3 separate regions of the Homo sapiens genome follow, and all the other regions are linked to region 1. The links come from fine-mapping of genetic effects on gene expression. A gene starts in region 1. Each other region holds a variant in brackets. All regions are shown on one strand. Distances are between the middles of the regions.

Region 1 (6,977 bases):
AAAGCTAGAATTCTGTAAGGAACAAGACATTATCTCATCAACTATGACCCTAGTTCCTCCTGGAGTAGATTTATAAAATAATGGCCTTTCTCTACCACCATTCAGTTCCCTTTCTTCTAAATCAAAAAGAGCAGTGGTAGTATACTCTCTGAGAATTAACTGTACTTTTAGAATTGAGGACTCCAGATGAAATATACAGTAGGCTCTTGAATAATGTCATTTTATTCCACATCATTTCATTATAATGTTAATGAAAAAAATTGATTACCCACCCGGTCACTGACTGTGTGAGGTTTGCACCTTCTCCTCACGTCCACATGGGTTTTCTCTGGGTACTCCAGCTTCCTCCCACATCCCAAAGAAGTGCATGTTAGATGAATTGGGGTGTCTACATGGTCCCAGCATGAGTACGTGTGTGTGTGTGTAAGGGCACCCTGCAATGGAATGGTGTCCTGTCGAGGGTGGGTTGTGGCCTTGCATCCTGATCTGCCAGAATAGACTCCAGCTACCTAAAGCCCTGAACCGAAATAATTTGGTAGTTATCTTATTTGTCTTTCTTACTGTTTTGTAAATATATGTCTAGCTCACATTTATTTCAATGTTTAATACTAGGAATGTGTTGGTCTTTATTTAGAAGTTTGGTGATGTTTTTGTGACAAGAAATATGCCTTAGAAACTTTATTCTTATTTATATCAATTAGCCTATGGTAAAATTGGTTTTATTATGTCGTTTCACTTAAAGTCACAATTTCTAAGAACCTATCAACATTAAAGGATGACTTACTATATGTGTGTGTGCATATATATATATATATATATATCTGCACGTGTGTGTGTGTGTGTATAAAATAGAACTTATCTTTAGGCTATGGTGTATAAATCTAAGAAAGACAACCACAGCATTATTCTAAAACTTTAGATAAAAAAGCAGATACAAAAGTTAAATAGCTTAAAGTCCATGTAGTTACTAGCAAAGTAAAAAATATACTTTAGATCTTTCAAAATATAAAGCAAAATTTTACCTTTATTCGGTAAAATTTCTCCACATTAAATCCTGCAGCATTCGCCAACCTACGCAGATTTTCTTGAACCACTACCTTGGGATCTCTCCGTTTGGAACTACTGAAGAGATTGAATGAGCTAAGAGTTGGTATATAAGATATCCCACCTGTTCTTGTAGTAAATCCATGTATGAAAATATCTGTTGAAGATAAGCAGTGAAGATTTAAAAGATGCTATTCAAAATACCAGTCTCTCAATTAGACCTTCCCTGATCACTGCTACCTGCCCTTGTTATTTGGCTTCTAATTTCTATGGCATTTTGTACCTCCATATGTTCTTATGGCATTCTGCTTTGTGTTTGTTTTACACTCCCTATGAGATTGTTGCTCTTCAAAAGGTATATTGTGTCTCATCTGGCTTTGTTATATCTAATAGCATATAGCTCACAGAAAATACTGTTTAACCAAGAAGTAAGATTGATTGTTTTAAATTTTACTCTTCTATGAAGGTGCCAATGATTTGAAATTTCAGAATTTCTAAATAGAAGATTTTCAGTGTCATAAATCTCATTGCAAAGGAGGGCTAGATTATTTGTCTCATCATCAAATTTTTGTAAAGCAAATTTATTTATTTGGGGTGGCTTTGAAGGCTTTATCCCTTGACACCCCTGATACTACAGGGCCAAACATGACACCTCTGTGTTGCCACTGATGCTAATGAGTAATCAGCCCACAACAGTCAACAAAAGAAAGGAGGAAAAAAAGAGGTGAACTACCTCTGAAGAAAGACTAGTTTTCCATGTACAAAGTAAAAACAACAGTTAGTGGTTAATATACCTGGGATCAAAGAAGAAGTGATAATAGTTAATTTTCCTCTCAGTGCTGGCAGACTTCTCAAAAATGTTTCTATTTCATTCTGAATTCCTCTTAGTTCTTGAGCTGTGATTACGTTTATTTCAATGGACTGTTTAAAAAGCCCTCCCCTAAAAGTCACTTGCAAATCTTCAAATTCAAAATTGTAAACATCAGTGAAGAGTTGATCAATAAAAGCTTTCATTAATGTCTTCCTGTGCCTGGGTACAATTACCTTAATGCTGCTCAGATTTTTTTCATCAATTTTCTGTTTAATGGTATACAAAGTGGCAGCCATGCTGGGACAGCTAACAATCTCAAATTCTTCCAAGAGAGCTGATAATCCATTGCTTGTTTCTATTTCACAATTATCTTGTTCTCCATCCCTTTCATAGCTGATGTTACTGCAACACATTATACAGAGAAACTTGGCCTTGGCAGCATGGTGGTATTGGACAGCATTCAAAGTCTTCAGTAATGTCTGATGGCAGTTTTTTTGAGAGTTCAATTTCAAACCAAAAAGATCAATCAAAACAGCTTCTGCCATCCTTGAAAGAATACTTTTATGCCAAATAAATCACCTGCAAATAAAAATTAGTGTAAGAATATAAGATTATATAAATCTTATAGTTACAACAGAAATTTGTGGTAGATTAAAAACGAAGTAATTACACTGATTTTAAAATGTAACTAAAATAGTAAATCTAGGCCCCTCCCAGAAAAGCCAGTCTACTCTGTCACAACAGAACCATGACAGTGAAAGCAAAGCCATCTTTTAATTCGTTTTGTGAAAATGCTGGTACATCTTTCCAGCAGCACGACAGTTCCTCTGTTTTGTTTACACAGAACTTTTGAGTAAGGAATTACTTGTGGAGTTTAGACAAAGTCCTGTTTTTAAATTGCAGAGTGTCAACCTGTGTGATATATCATTAGTCCTGACATGATTGTCATATTAGGTCTCATCCTTTCATATGCGGGGGCTTAAGTTTACGAAGCTAAATGGAGCTGCACGCGAAATTCGCGTTTTAAGATGATAAAAGCTGAGATGGCTAATAGAGTTCCCTTCAGGATTTGCGCAGTACTCCACACTTAGCAATGACCACAAAAGCTATAGTGATTTGGATGAGACAGGCTTCCTCTCAACTTTCTTAATTCATTCTCCCCGTGCAGCTTTGCTCACCTCCAGCCCAGCCCTCCCACCCCAACCTGCGGGGCTCCGGTGACCCCCTTTGGTGACGCCCTTTGCCCCAAGAAGGTTTTCTCCTGCCGCTTCCCCTAACCTTTGCTCCCCATCTCTCGGGGCTCCCTCTGAGGTTCATTTAGCCAGTTTTGAGTGGGTGACCGTCCCCCCTTCCCTGTTCATTGTGAATTTCCGCCCAACGTGTGTCGCCGCCAGGTCCCTGTTCCTCCTACCCGCCTCGGCTCACGGGGCGCAGGCTGTGGCTCTGCACCTGCCCGGGCACCTCCACCGGCGGCTCACAGCCCATTCGGGACTTCCTGTCGGACAACGCACACCAGAGGCGATTCGGTCCTCGCCTTCCCGCTCTTCACCTTCGGTTGCACACCGGTCTACGGCGACCTCTGTGACAATTTGCCGCCCCGTCCCTCGTCCTGAGCCTCAACGAAATTGGGCAGCCGCGAGCGGGTCAGCTGGAGTCGTAAGCTCGGCCCAGCGCGACGACACCCGCCCCGCCTCACCTCGCCCACCTCGCCCACCTCGCCCCGCCTCGCCTCGCCCCGCCTCGCCCCGCCTCACCTCGCCCCCCTCGCCCACCTCGCCCCGCCTCACCTCACCTACCTCGCCGCGGCCGCACAGATTCCCCGCCTGATACCGTCCCAGGATCCCAGGGGAAACCTGACGGCCAGGTTCCCTCGTGCCAGCTGCCGGGAGGCGGGAGGGAGGTAGGCCAGGGCCGCCTGGCGTGCTTGGTGCGAACGCGGCGGGCCCAGCGCGAGAGCTGGGGAATCCCGGGATGAGCCAAGCGCCGCGAGCCCGCTGCTGCCTCAGCAGTTCCGGGTCTGGGCGGTCCGCGGAGTCGGCATCCCGCAGCCCCGGCGGCGTTAGAGGAACAGGAACCAGAGCCGCGCGAGGGCTCTCGCCCGGGAGCCAGGCGGGTTAGCGGGCAGGAGTGGGCAGGCCGAGTCCGGAAAGGGTCGCGAGGAGGCAGCTAGGGGCCCCTTGAGGAGGGATAGGGCGGCGGAACGACGGGCCCTGGGAGCGGGCGCAGGGCGGCAGGAGCTGCAGGTCTCCAGAGGGCACGGGGCGGGGAACTAGGGGCCCGGTTAGAAAGCCGGGCGGCGGGAACGGCGGGCACCGTGAGGGGGCGGCGGGAATGGTGGGTCGCGTGAGGCCGGGCTGCTGGAGCGACCTCGGGACTAAACCGCAGTCTCCCTTCTGCTAATGGAAGCCGTTTCCCAAGCGAGCTGAAGTCCGCGTTTCCGGTCTCTGAGGGACGCCTCGCTGACCCAGCAGTGTGGTCAGGACGCTGGGTTTCCTCACCGCAGCCCAGGGCCAGTCCCTTGTCATGCTAGCTCTTGGCAGCTTTTCCCATGCAGGGCTCAAGTCAGGGGCCCCCTCGAGATGTTTTAGTGTTTTTTTGTTGTTCATTTGTTTCCAGAAACAAGCTGTTGTCTCTCCTCCAATGTCTTTGTGCTGATTCTTGCTGACCAACACTCTTCCGAGCGCCTTCACTTGTGTTGACAACACGGATGTCCTCTATGGCCTTTTAAAATATGTGCCACTAGCAGGACTTAAGTAAAAGGCGCTCATCCCTAAAATCATGATAAAGGTGCAGTTTAGCATCCCTGATCTGTCCTCCAAGAATATAACGTTCATTTATTTGAAAATAGCAGTTAGGACATGGAAGGCCAGTGTATGGTAAAGGGAAAAAATATCCGACCTTCCAAGAGTAAGAGAAATGGTGCTTCCTGGGGAACTGGTTATGATGGAAGGAGAGGTCCCTTTTATCTTCATTGTTGCTCATTTGGTAGGCGCTAAAGAACCTTTGTCTCATAATCTCAGATAGCTGGGAATTTGGAAGAGCCCTCTGGGGTAGGCATGTTCTTGTGCTTGACTAGAGACTGGGAGCACTAACCCAGAATGGAAACCCACCCTTCAATAACCCTAGCACCAGTTATGTCAAAATTCATGTTTTCTTTGGTCATTTGTTAAAGAGCCCCGAGCGGTAGATGGTACACCCAATCAGAAGGTGCACTCTGCCCTGAGTTTGTTTATGTTAAATATCATTAGATTGGTGCAAAGGTAATTGCGGTTTTTGCCATTGACAAAGACCACAATTACTTTTGCACCAGCTTAATACCTCAAGCAAAACAGAGGTCTTTTAGTTACAAAGGTTTTAAACATTTATCTCTGTTTTTACAATGGTGGGATTCGTATTCTTTCATGCAAAAGTAGTGGCAGTAAAAAAAAAATGAAAAAGAAAATATTTCAAAAGAATGAAGTTGTCAGGGAAGAGAGTTTGTTATATTGTATTTGCATACCATTTCCTTTCACCATCTGGTCCTAGTGTCATGTCCTAACACTTCCTCATCCCATTTTCACTCTATCCTACTCCAGTGGTTCTCAGTCTTGGCTGCAAATCAGAACTGCAAGTGCAACTGAAAAAAAAAATAATTAATGTAGAGACTCTATCCCAAATATACATTGAATCAGAATCTCTAGGAGTTAGGCCTGAGCATGTTTTGCTTTGCTTTTTTGTTTTGTTTTAACCTCTATGTATGAGTTAGATGCATAATTAAGTTTGAAAAAATAAAAACACCCTATTCCCAAGCCACTCAAATAAAAGCTGTTCTTTGGAGGCCACATGATTTCATTCTTTACATTTGCAGTTCCTCTACTTAGCAAAATACCCTCCTTTTTATATGCCTAACTGCTACTTTTTGTTCAAGGCTCTTCAAGCTCAAACATAATCTTCCCTGAATCCCCATCCCTCATCAAGCAAAATTAATAGCTTCTTTACATTTTGTTCATATGAAGAAGCCCTCTCATAGATGTAGTCTGGGCCCCTAGCCAAGAAATAAGTGGAAAAAATGGTTAAATATTGAATTGTACACTTTATAAGGATGTACTTTGTGGTATGTAAATTATATCTAAAAAAGGCTTTTTTTATAAGAAAAAAGGTCAGTTAAACCACAGAATCATGAAAAAATATAACAAATACCTTAAACTGTATTCTAACCTAAAACAACTGTGTGTTCATTTGCCCATCTATTGAGAAGATCCAAGACCTTTTCTTTGCATGTAGTCTACTGATTGGAATTCTGCATACTATCTCTTGCATAAACCGTACCCATAAACCATCAGCTAAGATTTCCCAAGATTTTGTTCTTTTAAGGGGAAAATAACTTAAAGGCACCTGTGAAGCAATCTGAGGGCAGATTTATACTTTGTAATTTTTTTCTTTTTTGAGATGAAGTCTCGCTCTGTCGCCAGGCTGTAGTACAGTGGTGCGATCTCGGCTCACTGCAGCCTCCACAGGGTTCAAGTGATTCTCCTGCCTTAGCCTCCCAAGTAGCTAGGATTACAGGCGTGCACCACCACGCCCGGCTAATTTTTGTATTTTTAGTAGAGACGGGGTTTCACCATGTTGGCCAGGATGGTCTCGAACTCCTGACCTCTCTTGATCTGCCTGCCTCAGCCTCCCAAAGTGCTGGGATTACAGGCATGAGCCACCGCTATATTTTATAATCTTTTACAGTTAATCTCACATACTTTTGTTGGGTCTTTCCAAAATATTAAACATAGATTTTTAAAGAAACAACAATTTCCACACTATTTCATTGGTTTATACAATATTAAGTTACGAAAGCACAATATCAAGCACAACTGGCAAAAACAGGTTTGCAAACAAACACAAGTAAGTCATAAGATTGAACTAGTCAATTGATAGGAGCAGAAATAGGCAGATTTACTAGTTAACAGTTTCCTAGCATGATATGGGAATTAGTCACTTATGACTTACAAAGGTAATAGAGTGAGTTAAGTGGTTAGAGGTTATGTGTAGATAGGCTTAGACATAAGCTGCTGCGCCTCTCCATTTTAATTGACTGTGTGTCTTTCTGCCTAGAGTGTTTTGAGGGCAGAGATAGTGCCTGGCTATTAAG
Region 2 (6,977 bases), 140 kb after region 1:
GTAGATATTTCAGTTGGCATTTTTGTTGTCTTCTCCCTCTTTTGTTTTCTGTTCCGTCTCATGATGCTTCACCACTTCAAACTTTCTATTGCAGTTACTTTTCCTCTAGCATATTGTCTGTTAACCATCATCTTCTTCCTCCACTCTTGTGAAGCCTTCTGGCCAGAGACTGTCATCACCCTGCTACCTCCTCTGTGGAGCTCAAGGCCCAGCATACTCCTAGTGTTCAATAAATAAATGATCATCATTTGCAAGTGAATGTTTTCCAGTTTTCTCCCTAAGAATTTCCTTCACATTGCAATGCCTCTACAAACACTGCCTTCTGGAAAAATTGTTAGTAATCCGTAATGCTAAGATGCATTGTAGATGTAATTTAGATTCACAGCCATTTATGCAGTGCATTATTTAGGCAGTTCAGCACCAAGGAGAGTGACTATTTGCTTTAGCTTGGGTTCAAGGTCAGTGGAGGATTTGCTGTGTTTAGACCCCTATAGTACTGTTGGCAAGATGTAATTTTTCCATAATAGCTGGAAAGCCAAACCCTGTATAAACATACTTTAATAATGGTGAAAGCACTAGCGGAGATGTACACTGAGGAAATATTAAAGTTCACACTCCTGTAGCTAAGACTTAATTGAAGCAAGTAGTCTTTTATTTACATTTGGGTTGCTTGTTTTAATACCAGTTCCTAGAGTAGTTCATCACGTCTTCCATTCCTCTAGACGTGACTGCCAAAGAGCCCATTTTAGGATTCCATTTGGTCTTTGTCTTGTCACCAGGCCTGAGGAAAGATTTACATCTTCCTTTGTGTGTCTTGGAGATCCTTGGCATGGTATCCTAGCCTCCTTTCCTCGTTAAGAGGCACAGCTTCCTCATTAGCTGTTGGTACACTGAAAAAAGAATGACCTGAGGGGTTTATTAGGGTCTTGAACTGAACTCTTTCTGTCTGTTTTTGTAACAGGTTCTCAGAACCTAAAGTGGGTTGCCCAGAACTTGTTTTCAGAGAAGCCCTGAAAAGTATGAGAAAGCCTCATACTTTCACTGTAAAGGAACATTAACTAATGCCATTCCTGTTCTCTGTGGAGGCAGTAGATTTTCACTGAAATGGAAGTTGTTTCTAGGATAGAGAGAGTGAAAAGCTGCTGCTGTGGTTTTAAATGTGTCCTCCCAAAGATCATGTGTTGGAAGCCCCATCACCAACGCAACAGTTTTGAGAGATGGGATCTTTAAGAGGTGATTAGATCATGAGGGCTTTGCCCTCATGGATGGATTAATGTCATTGTCATGAGAGTGAGTTTGCTATTGTGAGACTGGGTTTGTTATAAAAGCAAGTTTGCTCCCCTCTCTCTGGCTCTCTCTCTACCATGTTTTGATGTAGCAAGAAGTCCCTGACCAGATGTTGGCCCCTCAATCTTAGACTTCCTAGCCTCCAGAACTGTAAGAAATAAATCTCTGTAGTTCATAAATTACACAATCTTAAGTATTCTGTTATAGCATTACAAAACAGACTAAGACAGCTGCTAAATCCGAAGAAATTCATCCATTTTTACGCAGAAAGAGAGATCTTCGTGATTTCATTTCTTCCCTGTGTGTTGCAGTACTTATCCTGCTTTACCTGCCTCTCTTAAGGCCAGGGGAGGAAGATCAAGTCTCTTCAAAGGACACTAGAGCTTTAGGAGCATTTTTCCAGTTCAGTGGTATGAGCTATTCAAGTTGTGCCTTGACCATCTTCTCAAGAGGCTTTACTAGAACTTGAGGATTTATACCTGAGAACCCCCTGGGCTGGACCTATTAGAAAATCTACCACAACAGATGCTTGAAAGAGTTTCTGAGTTAATAGGAAATGAGGCTCCTTTGTCTTCCAGTGAAAATGTTCTGGAGGAGTGTGATTTGAGGGGTTCCTGAATTTCTATCTATCCTGTAATGTTTTCTCCACTGTCTTGTGGTAAAATTTGTAGTTCTCACAGTTAATTATTTTTTTTAGGTTAGTCATGATGTCTCTAAGAAGTTCTAATGACATTTCAAATAAATTCCTGATGAGAGATTATCAAGGTCTCCTTCTGTGAAAGTATGAGGCTTCAGGGCTTCTCTAAAAACAACTTCTGGGCAACCCTGAACTTGTTCTGAGAACCTCTTATACAAACAGACAGAAAGAGTTCAGTTCAAGACCCTAATAAAGCCCTCAAGGCATTCTCTTTTCAGTGAATAAACAGCCTCTTTCACTGTAAAGGAACATTAACTAGTGCCATCTATGTGCCCTATGGACTCAGTAGATTTTCAATGAAACAGAAATTGTTTCTAGGATAGAAGGCTTTCATCCTATCCCCCAATTCCCTGTTCCCAGTCTATTTTACACACGGTAGTTTGAGCGATCATGTCCCTATTCCCCAAAATTGCAGTTTGTCTAACTGAAAAATCAAAAATATTAGAGTCAACTGAGTCCTTTCTTTATCTCACACCTACATCCAGTCTCTTAGCAGATCCTATCAGCTCAACTTCCAAAACATCCAGAATTCAACCACTTCTCTCCACTTCCAGTGCTACTCTCTTGGTTGAGCCACCATTATCTCTTATTTGGTGTGTGGTTAATTTTATGTGTCAACTTGACAAGGCCAAAGAATGCCCAGATAACTGGTAAAACATTGTTTCTGGGTATGTTTGTGAGAGTGTTTCTGAAAGAGATTAACATTTGAATTGGTAGACTGAGTAAAGAAGATGGCTCTCACCAATGTGAGTGGGCATCATCTAATCTGTCAAGGGCCCAAATAGACAAATAAGATGGAGGAAGGGTGAACTAACACACTCTCACACTCACACACACACACTGTCTCTCTCTGTCTCTGTCTCTCTCTGTCTCTCTTTGCTTGAGTATCCATTTTCTCCTGTCTTTGACTGGACATTGATGCTTCTAGTTCCTAGGCCTTTGGACTTGGACCAGGACTAACACTACTGGCTCCTCAGCCCTTCAGATTTGGATTGTTACTATGTCACTGGTTTTCCTGACCAGCATGTCGATCATGGGACTTCTCAGCCTCAATAATATGTGTGCCAATACTTCATAATTTCTTTCTATATGTCTCTATATATCTATTGGTTCCTTTTCTCTGGCAAGCCCTAATATACATGATTTATGATAATAGCTTTCTAACTGGCTTCTCTGCTTCTACCCTTGCCCATTTTGTCTATTCTTAATATGACTATAGAAATTCTGTTAAAATGTAATTTAGTTTTATAAGAGTGCAAGGTAATTCAATGTGAGAAAGAATAATCTTTTCAACAAATGGTGCCAGGACAACTGAATCTCTACATGCAAAAGAATGAACTTAGACTCTTTCTCTTATACCATATGCAAAAATTAATTCAAAAATATTTTAAAGGCCTAAAATAAGACCTAAAGCTATAAAACTATTAGAAGAAAACAGATGTAAATCTTCATGATCTTGGATTAGGCAACAGTTTCTTAAATATGACACTAAAAGCACGAGCAACAGCAACAAAAAACAGATAAATTGGACTTCGTCAACATTTTATAATTCTGTGTTTTAAAGCACACCATAAAAAAGTGAAAAAGCAATCTACGAAATGGGAGAAAAAGTTGCAAATCATGTATCTGATAAGGGACTTGTATATTGGATATGTAAAGAACTCATGCAACTTAATAAAAAAGGTACATAACACAATTCGAAAATGGGCAAAGATCTGAAGAGATCAAAAAGCACATGAAAAGGTACTCAGTCTCTGAAATGTAAATCAAAACCACTATGAGATACCACACCAGCTTAGATGGCTATATTCAAAAAGACCAATAATAACAGGTGTTGTTGAGGCTATGGAGAATTTGAAGCCCTCATACACTGCTGGTAG[A/G]ATATAAAAAGGTTCAGGCGGGCGCAGTGACTCACACCTGTAATCCCAGCACTTTGGGAGGCCGAGGTGGGCAGATCACAAGGTCAGGAGTTCTAGACCAGCCTGGCCAACATGGTGAAACCCCGTCTCTACTGAAAATACAAAATTTAGCCAGGCGTGGTGGCATGTGCCTGTGATCCCAGCTACTTGGGAGGCTGAGGCAGAAGAATCTCTTGAACCTGGGAGGCGGAGGTTGCAGTGAGCTGAGATCACGCCATTGCACTCCAGCCTGGATCACAAAGCAAGACTCTGTCTCAAAAAAAAAAAAAAAAAAAGTTTCAGCCATTTTGGAGAACAGTTTGGCACTTTTTCAAAAGGTTCAACACAGAGTTACCATATGACCTAGCAATTCTTCTCCTAGATATTTACCCGAGAGAACTGAAAATGTGTCTGCACAAAACTAGTACACAAATGTTTATAGCAGCACTATTCATAATAGCTAAAAAGAGGGAACAACGCCAATGTCCTTCAACTGTTGAATAAACAAAATGTGATATAGCTAGACAATGGAATATTATTCATCGATAAAAAGAAATGAAGTACTGGCACGTGCTACAACAAGGATGAACCTTAAAAACATGTGAAGTGTAAGAATCCAGACATAAAAGACCACATATTGTATGACTCCATTTATAAGAAATGCCTGGGACCAAGAGTTTGGGGTGGAGGTTGAAGTGACTGCTGATGGATATGGGGTTTCTTTTTGGAGTAACAAGGATGGAGGGTAGAGGAGGGAGAGGATCAGGAAAAAATAAGTAATTGGTACTAGGCTTAATACCTGGGTAATGACATAATCTGTACAAAAAACCCCACGAGACATGTTTACCTATGTGACAAACCTGCACTTGTACCCCTGAACTTAAAAAGTTAAAAAAAAATAAAAAATGTTTTAAAGTTGTCTGTGATCATGATTGTACAACTCTGTGAATATACTAAAACTCCTTCAACTGCACATCTAAAATGGATATCATATGCCAATTATATCTCAGTAAAGGTGTTAAAAAAAAAAGGTAAATTGGTTGAGGTCACTTCTTTGCTAAAAACCCTCCAATGGTTTCCCTTCTCTTTCAGAGTAAATGCAAAGTCCTTCCAGTGGTTCCTGGTGTTTCCCTACCTTGAACACCTACTACCTTTTGTCTCATTTACCCCACTGCAGGCACATGGCCTCATTTCTGTGCCTCAGAAATGTCGCTCTTCTAACTCACGACTTATGAATCTGTTGTTCCCTCTGCTGGGAACACATTCCCCATATTCAGTTGACCTTCCAACAATGTGGGAGTTAGGGGCACCGACCACTTGCACAGTTGAAAAGCTGCACATAACTTTTGACTCCCCCAAAATTTACAACAAAGTAAACTTGAGAAAAGAAAACGTTACTAAGAAAATCATAAGGAAGAGAAAATATATTTTTACTATTCATTAAGTGGAAGTGCATCATTATAAGGTCTTCATCCTTGTTGTGTTCAAGTTGAGTAGGCTGAGGAGAGGTTGAGGAAGAGAAGGGGTGGGTCTTGCTGTTTCGGGTGGCAGAGGCAGAAGAAAATTTGAGTTTAAGTGGACCCGTGCAGTTCAGACCCATGCTGTTAAGGGTTAACCGTATATCACACAGCTTCCTCCCTCACCTTCTTTAGACTTTATCCATCACTTTATTTAACCATCTTATTTATTAATAAAATACAACCTCATCACAACAGCTCTTTTCTTATGTTATTTTTCTCTCTTGGTCTTAGAATCATCTAACTCCCACACACGTTTATATATATTTAAATAAATACATTTATTATATAATAATAATAATTATTATTATTTGAGACAGGCTCTCACTCTGGTTGCCCAGGCTGGAGTGCAGTGGTGCTATCTCAGCTCACTGCAGCCTCCACCTCCTGAGCTCAGGCGATTTTCCCACCTCAGCCTCCCAAGTAGCTGGGACTACAGGCGCATGCCACCATGCCCGGCTAGTTCTTTGCGTTTTTAGTAGAGATGGGGTTTTGCCATATTGCCAAGGCTGGTCTTGAACTCCTGGACTCAAGCAATCTGCCCGACTTGGCCTCCCAAATTGCTGGGATTACAGGTGTGAGCCACCACACCCACCAATATATTTATCATTAATTGATAACATTGTGTTAACCTTCGATGAAGGAAAGAATTTTGGCCTGGTATTGTTCACCAGTATGTCCCCAGTACTTAGAAAAATGCCGGTACATAGTAGATATTTGTTGAAGAAATGACTTAGTGTAAGATTGTTAGTGAACAAATGGTGTCAATTAATCTGATTAGCTAGTTGGAACCTAGGAAACAGTTGGAGATAGAGGAAATGGGAGATAGGATAGTTTTTTTATTTTAGTGTGGCCTTGCAGATTTGTCCATTTTTGGAAGGATGGGCACTGTCCATAAAGGGCAACCCCGCTAAGCCATGAGTATGGAGGGTAAGGGACCTGGGTGCTAATTGAGAAAAAAAGTTCAGAGAGGAAATGGACTGGAAGGACTATGAAAGCAGAAATGGGCCAGGTAAAAGGCAATACCTCTTGCTTTGCAGTTTTAATTGGGATGAGTGCTGGACCTCCTTAATAATTGAGTTACTGATTGGCAAAACTAGCATGAATAGGCAAAATGGTTTCAGAGTTTGGGAACAAAAAAATCTATATATATTACTATAATCAAATATCACTGTAAATAACTGAGCAAACATTACCCAGGAAGAATCAGTTGCCATCTTGGTATGCTTGTGGGACATTTACTTGCTTTATATATTTTTTCAAAACCTTTCTAATGATATGCAACTAAAGAATTATTGTTTGGAAGACACCTCTCTTTGAAAAGTAGTAAATGAAAACATTGTTTCTATTTAAATGTGGGTGAGTGGTGGATTATCTAAATAGAGACTGTTAATATTGACTAATTTTTAAAATGGGTAATTTAAGAACTAGTTCCTTTGTAATTCTATACATGGCCTGAGAGAATGTTAGCCATAGACTAGATGTTTTCAATATAATATGTTATTTTCTTTATTCATTTAACGTCAGAGAACTTTAAATTACTGCATTGTTTGATTATATGCTTGGCTCTATAACTAC
Region 3 (6,977 bases), 57 kb before region 1:
TAGATATTTGGAGGAAGGAAGGAAGGAAGGGAGGGAGGGGAGAGAGAGAGAAAGAGAAAGAGAGAGAAAGAAAGAGAGAGAGAGAGAAAGGAAGGAAGGAAGGAAAGAAAGACAAAGAAAGAAAGAGAAAGAAGAAAGAAAGAAAGAAAGAAAGAAAGAAAGAAAGAAAGAAAGAAAGAAAGAAAAAAAGAAAGAAAGAAAGAAAAGAAAGAAAAGAAAGAAAGTAAGAAGAAAATAAAAGAAAACAGCCTTAGAAATTAGTTTGCCCACCCCTGGAAGAATTCGTATTTAGGAGTAACGGCATGAGGAAAAATAAATTGAACTGGAGTATTTGGGTGTGCGTTTATGTGGCATAAACCTGGGAGAGCTGGTTGCTCCCAGCAGCTGCTATGGTGAAGCCGAGACCACATCCCTTGCATATTGAAGCCGTAATAGTTTCAAGAGATGTCACCTTTGTGAGGCAAGGGCTGGAAAAATGCTGTTGTTATAAAGAGCACATTTTGGGGTAGATTCTTTCTCCAGCTTGGGGCAAAGTTGCAAGGGTGAACTGGAAACACTTTAAGGTCCATTACAAGTTTAAAATGTGATGGAGGAGTGAAAAAAATATCAGAGTTTGGTGACTGGAATTTCTGGAGCAGTTCAGATGGTAAAGTTATGGCTCCAAGCACCAAAGGGTTACCCTATTAAACTTCAGGAAATGTCTGGGCCTCCAGTGATATTTTACTCCAACTTCAAATCACAACTTCAATTCACATTTTAAAGAAAACTAAGAAAAAAAATTAAGCTGTTTTTAAATTATATACATTTACCAATTAGATGAAAACCTAGATGCCAACTTGTTACAAAAGCCAAGTGGAACTGCAGTTTTTATCTGTAGTTACCTAAAGAAAACCACGCATAAATTTGGTTAATATTTTATATCTATAACTATATATCTATGTACATTTACATATGTAGACAAATAAAGATATATCAGATGCCAGCTGACTTCCAGATAGTGATTTGTAATATTCTTTTGAAGATAATACCTTCATAACCATCTTTTTTTTTTTTTTGCTAGGATGTCTAGCCAAAACACACTTACTTTTCATAATGGCATGAAATATGTGAAGAATAAGAAAAATTACCTATGAAAACAGCTAGTGCCAAAATCAAATTGAAAATTCAAGGAATGCCAAAGTCTGAAAGGGCGTTATGTGTGCACACTAGTGAGCTGAAGTGGTCAGCCAGATTCACCAAACAGCTCTCAGTTCACTTGCAAGGTCCATTATAGGATTTTCTCATCTGCCCTGTTCTTTCTTCTTTGGCTTCTGCATGAACCTAAATAAATACATTCTTTACCCAGAAGGGTGTGTCCACCCTGTGGTGTGGGTCTGGTGATTGGCTTCAGGAAGGAACTAAGTATTGAAATTGGCTGTGGACACCATGGTCTACATTGCCTTTGAGCCACAGTCTTGTTTGCTTAGGGAGAGGAACAGGCTGCAAGGAGGAGGCACCTTCTTCCTCCACTGCTGAATTTCAATGAGCAGAATCTATCAACAAAGTCAGGGCAGTGTAAGGCCTGACAGGCCCTGGGCCTCTTCTGGGCTGAGGCCAGATGGGATTTGAGCCTGATGCAGAACTTGTTACATTTAATATTAAAGAAGCATGAAGCAATAGCATGACCCAGGGAGGCGTAGAAGTTATGGCCAGGCAGCCTTCTCTTTCCTGCCCTGCTGTCTGATGCTACTCAGAAATAAAGGCATCTTCTTTTTCAGATAACTATATAAACAATACATAACAGGTGCTAGTTACACATTTTACTACCATAATTCACAAAAAGAAAATGCCACAGCTTATAAATTGTGTGTGAATTTCGAATTTCATTTTGTCCTTAAAATGATTTCCTTTCCCTAAAACTTGAAAGCCAGTACATTCAGTTGCCTATATAAATTAACTCAACAGTTTGGGGTATGCCTGGAGAGCAGGCCTAACTTCAGTACCAGGCTTGCCAGATTCAAGGGTTCAAGACAGAGCCTGGTCTGTTTCTGGTTTTATCTAGCTGTGTACTGGTGGGAAAACATTTCACAGTGGTATCTTGTTCAGTATTACTCCTCCTAGGGTGTCTCTGTGCCCTCTCAATTTATTTCACTGACAAAAAGCATGTTTTTAATCTGTCTGCATCACTGAACTGACTGAGAAAACAGAGAGCACAAAATAGATTCTATTCCTTGTGAATTATTAAAGCAAGTTGTCAGCAACTGTAAATCCTGCTAACGGATGACAGCCTCAGAAACAGAGAATACAATCTGTACAGCCTAGTGGAACAAAAGAAAGAGAATCACTTCTTGAATGGAAAATTGAAGAAATTCCTATTTAAATTTAGAATATGAATTTCAAGGCCATCCTGACCATCAACCCAAATCCAAATTAACCAATAAGTCCTTTTAAGCCATGGTTGGATAAAGTTTCATACCATTTTGTTATTGTTGTTGTTCTTGTCTTTCCTTAATACCTTATCTGGTTGAGAGCAGAATCAGCCAGAGTGATTTAAATGATGTTTCAGAGGAAAAGTTTGTGGGCACTTAATATAGATACCTTTTAAAGCCTTTGTAAAAAGATGTAAAAATTGTACATAAAATAAAACAAATGTATGACTTTAACCACTAAATGAAACTAAAATAAAGGATACTGAGTTCATGTGAGTTCCATTCTCCCTTTTGCCAATTCTAATTCATTGTCTATTCATTTGGCAAGTGTTTGCTGGAGTCACACAATAATTTATTTCCTCTCTGTTCTTTTTGCAGCAAATACTCTTGGGAAGGTATTTAGAACTTCCTGGCCAGCAAAAGAATATGAAAAAAAAAGTCTTTACTATAGTGTTAACCAAAATTTTTTTATTTCACCAGTTTGGGCGTTTATTTGTATCCATCCTACATTAGAAAATGCCAGGGAGTAGCTAAATATTAATAATGTTGTTTTTCTTTTTCAAGAAACACCATGAGCGCCACAGACTCTGATTCAAAATGAACTCATGGCCTAACATCAATGAGACACCGAGCACCAGATGTCAGGTCCAGAGCTGCCCTGCCTGGGGTGTGAAGGGGCCCCTCCCCTCTCTGAGCCTCAGTGGCCCCACATTCATATGACCTGAAGAGTAAATGCCTCCTGAAGTTTTGTACTTGAGGCACCTCACTCACCCACCCTGGTCCAGTCCCTGCCTCAATGTTACTACTTTGGTAAGCTTTATGACTCCAGAACCAACAAGTATGAAGGGCTTTCTTTATTCTGTCTCTTCACAGTGTAAGATGGGTGAAAATTTTAACAGTTCACCTTGCCTCCAAGATTAATCACACTCCCAAAGCCCAGCAATAGTGGATGCTTTCTACATGAGCTGCCTCAAGTTGGGGTTAAAGAAGCATTGCTGCCCCAAGAGTGTTCAGAAATTGCATCGAGGGCAGTGTCTGAATGCTGACACTAGACTGTTTTGCTCAACAGTGATCGCTCCTTTGGTTCTTGTCTTGTGCTTTAGCCCTGATTTTTGCTAACTGTGACATTTGGCTTTAGTTCCTCTTGAGTTTCTGCCTCCTGGCTTCCACCTTGTCTCAGCAGCAGAACTTCCAACTCTGACCGTTAGCCATGTCCTTGATCTGGTTTGTCGTGTGGATTCTCTTTGGGTTTCCTGCCCTCTTTTCCCCACAGTCCTGGGCTAAGGTCTGGAGGCCATTTCAAAATCCATGACGGTCACTGTGAGTGTGTCCTGGAAGCGAGAGAGGAGGCCAGAAAAACGTTTTCTAATGCTCTTTTCCTACCATATAAAACAGATTTTAAAAAATATATTTTGCTCTTCTGGAATGCATAGGTGTGTTACAAAAATTAACATCTGTGAAGCCTGTGTAGATTAATGTGAAAAGCATTTGTGTAGAAGAGTGCCAAGCTATTGCCTTGGCAACAACTCCACAATAGAAAAAGAAAACCTCTAACATCAGCTATAATT[A/T]CAAAGTAAGGCGGCTGCTTTTGTTTTTACCAACACAGCAGCTCTGTACTTCCAGGTGCCAGTTATCCCCTTCAAATTAGCTATTGTGATAAATTATCAGTTATTTCATCTATTTCAGCAGTAAACCTCTGTCCAAAAAATTGTTTGGAATGACCTTTTGGTATTTCCTTTATGACTGGTAGCAGGGACATTAAAAAAAAAAATCCTTAATGGTAAAAAGTCTTTGTCCTACCAAATGTGGGGGGAAATTTAGCCATAATCTAGGAACTATTGGAAAGAGACAGAGACAGAGACAGTGACAGGAATGGATAGATAGATGATAGATAGATAGATAGATAGATAGATGATTGATAGATAGATAGATAGATAGATAGATAGATAGATAGATAGATGATAGACAGACAGAGATTATGTCTATCACTATTAGACCTGGCTCTAAAGTAGTAAGGTAGATGTGTGCACATGTATGCATGCACGTGGGGCAAAGGGGAGGCAGGTGTATGTGTGAGGGAGTGAGAAAGAGACAGAGAATATCCTAGGCATTCCAATTTGTTGGTGGAGTGTGATTTTATTTCTCACCAAACAAAGGAAGCAAATCTAACAGGCTGTGCATGCTACAACTTCCACTCTTGTCAGGAAAATTTCTCAGTTTCAGTCTTGATTGGAAGCAGAAATTTTTTTGAAGCACAGATGATTTGTCAGCTGGAAGGCAGAAGGTCTCTTGGGACACACCACAAGAATGTCTTTCCTCCATCCAGGAGTCACACAGTCTTGTCATCATCTCTGCTGCTGCAAACCAGCCAACACGGTTAGATGTACAGACTTGTGAACACTTTCAATTGGATTTTTGAGAAAAAGGTTACCCTCCAAACTGGTCAATTTGTTCCTAAGCTTCAAGCTCTCTCTCCCTTCCCCATCCAAAACACTTCCTTCTTTTTCTGCTTCCACTAGTCTTTATTTCATTATTCTCTCCCTCAGACCCCTCTCTGCCTCTATAAAGATAAGCAATTATTTTAAGCTTCAAACAAGATGCTGACCCTTGGGGGGCCTTCAAATGCAGAAAGTCTGGGAGAAGATGGAGGATTTGCAGATCAACAGCTCCCTAGTTGATACTCTGGGATACTTTGCAGTTAAGACTAAGGGACTGATGCTGATAGTTTTACTACCTATAGAAAAGTGTGCAAGTAAAGAGAACCAAAGCCTCTCCCCTTCTCTTGAGGAATCTGCTTGCTGCTTCCCTTCCTGTTGGCAGACAATTCAATTTTCAGGTGCCCACAAAGAGGCAGAAACATTCTTACTTTATGAATTCTGGTATTTCTTAACTCATACTGTATATGATTCCTGACCAACATTAACAATGGACTGAATTCCCTGGGATTATAATATTCCCTGAATCCCAGGGTATCTGCCTGTCAGATTCTGGTGAGGACCACCTGAGGCTAAATCAGGACGAAGGCATTCATCCTGTGTTATTGCTCCTAATTCTCCATGGTGCTATTCAACTTCTCACTCTGTAATTGGCATACTACCTTCCCAATTTGCCAGGACTGGCGATTTGCCACATTTCAGAAACTACTTTTGTGTATGCCAGATTATACTGAGGTTCCATGTTCATGGGGTTTTTAAAATCTCTTTTAATCCCTTTGATTGATAGATTACTAAAATATTTCAGGGTGGATTTGTTGGGTCTGTTTTCCTGTTGCCTAAATTCAATTTAGTTTAATTTATATATGGAATTATTACTACAGATAAATATAATCTTTAGTAAGAATTCCATAATTCCATATTTAAAGATGCAGGGGGGAACATACAAATTTAAGGCACAGTTTACATTCTAATTGGGTAGATAATTCAAGCACAAAGAGAAACATAATATAGGACAGAGTAAGGTGTTGTGTCCTAACACATAGAAAGTTATTCATTTACTACTATTCTGTCATGTGTTGGCCATCAGGAATGGGATACTTATGAGAAAAAAAGATGAACAACACAAAGAAGGAAAAGGGCTCTATCAAAGATAGATAGATAGTTAGATAGATAGATAGATAGTTCTTACCAAAGATATGACTAACATTGAATTCTGAGAGGGGCCTGTGCTCCTCTAGCCACACCAGAACCCTCTAAATAGTGTTAAATCAATCTGTTTTCAGGGTATAAGGGTGGAAAGCTATTAAATTATTTTTGTAATGGTGAAATTCAAAGAATAGAAGAGACCTCACAGACCACTTGAGCCAACCTTCCAGAAGAGGCTGAATTCCCTCTTTCAACAGAAATCTCCCTGTATCAGTGAGAGCCCTTCCACTAAACAAACCCAAAAGTGATTCATTCACCTCTTATTGACTCAGCAGCTCATTCCCTCTTCAGACAACTCTGTTCAACTTTCTTACACTAAGAGGAAATCTGTTTCCCTAAAATCTACACCAGATGGACATCTAAACCCTTCCAAGAAAGCCCTTGGATGTTTGAAAACAGGTATTGTGACCCACCACCCATCCTGTTGCCTGTCTCATCCCACCACATTTTTCTCTTCTACAACTAAATTCCCTCAATGGATATCCAATTTCCTCAATGGATAGCGCCCTTCACAATTATTTTATTTTGTTAAAATGTAAAAATAATAAGTGACTATTGTAGAAAACACAAAAAATATAAAGAAACAACCCTACAAGTGTGTGATCTAGTTGGAAAGATAAATGTGTGATAAGGATGCTATAAAAGCACAAAGAAAACTGTACGTGGCATAGCCCAGAGGTACGAAAGTGCATGATATTTAGAAAACTGGAGGACCTCATTCTGGGAAATGATCTGTATGAGAGAGGGGTAAAAGATGAAACTAGAGATCTAGATGGGCAGAAACCAAATCACAAAGGACTCTATGTGTTAAGACGTTTTATTTTTCTCCTAAAAGTTGTAGGGATACATGCCATTAATGTGTTTAAGGAAAGGAGAGATAAGATAAAATGTTTGTTTCTGAAAGGCCATTCTGCTGGCAGAGTGAAGA

Evidence for each region. PIP is the estimated chance that this variant, and not a neighbour inherited with it, causes the effect.
Region 2: its variant is the best candidate, but not a certain one, in a credible set for the expression of LACC1 in whole blood (INTERVAL, PIP 0.69).
Region 3: its variant is the best candidate, but not a certain one, in a credible set for the expression of LACC1 in esophagus muscle (GTEx, PIP 0.88).

What each region holds. Positions count from the first base shown.
Region 1 is chr13:43,876,409-43,883,385 of GRCh38, reverse strand. It overlaps LACC1 (laccase domain containing 1), which reads right to left and starts at 3,482. Exons shown (of 7, transcript NM_153218.4): 1 at 3,267-3,482; 2 at 1,839-2,434; 3 at 1,023-1,201. The coding sequence starts at 2,400. CCDC122 (coiled-coil domain containing 122) reads left to right here and starts at 3,646. Exons shown (of 7, transcript NM_144974.5): 1 at 3,646-3,755. RefSeq lists a silencer at 3,595-3,744.
Region 2 is chr13:43,738,285-43,745,261 of GRCh38, reverse strand. The region is part of intron 1 of ENOX1 (ecto-NOX disulfide-thiol exchanger 1); the gene reads left to right. Among named protein-coding and RNA genes, the nearest start is that of ENOX1, 45 kb to the left of the region's middle. The variant A/G (reference allele first, on the strand shown) is at 3,865.
Region 3 is chr13:43,933,804-43,940,780 of GRCh38, reverse strand. No RefSeq gene overlaps it. Among named protein-coding and RNA genes, the nearest start is that of LACC1, 57 kb to the right of the region's middle. The variant A/T (reference allele first, on the strand shown) is at 3,977.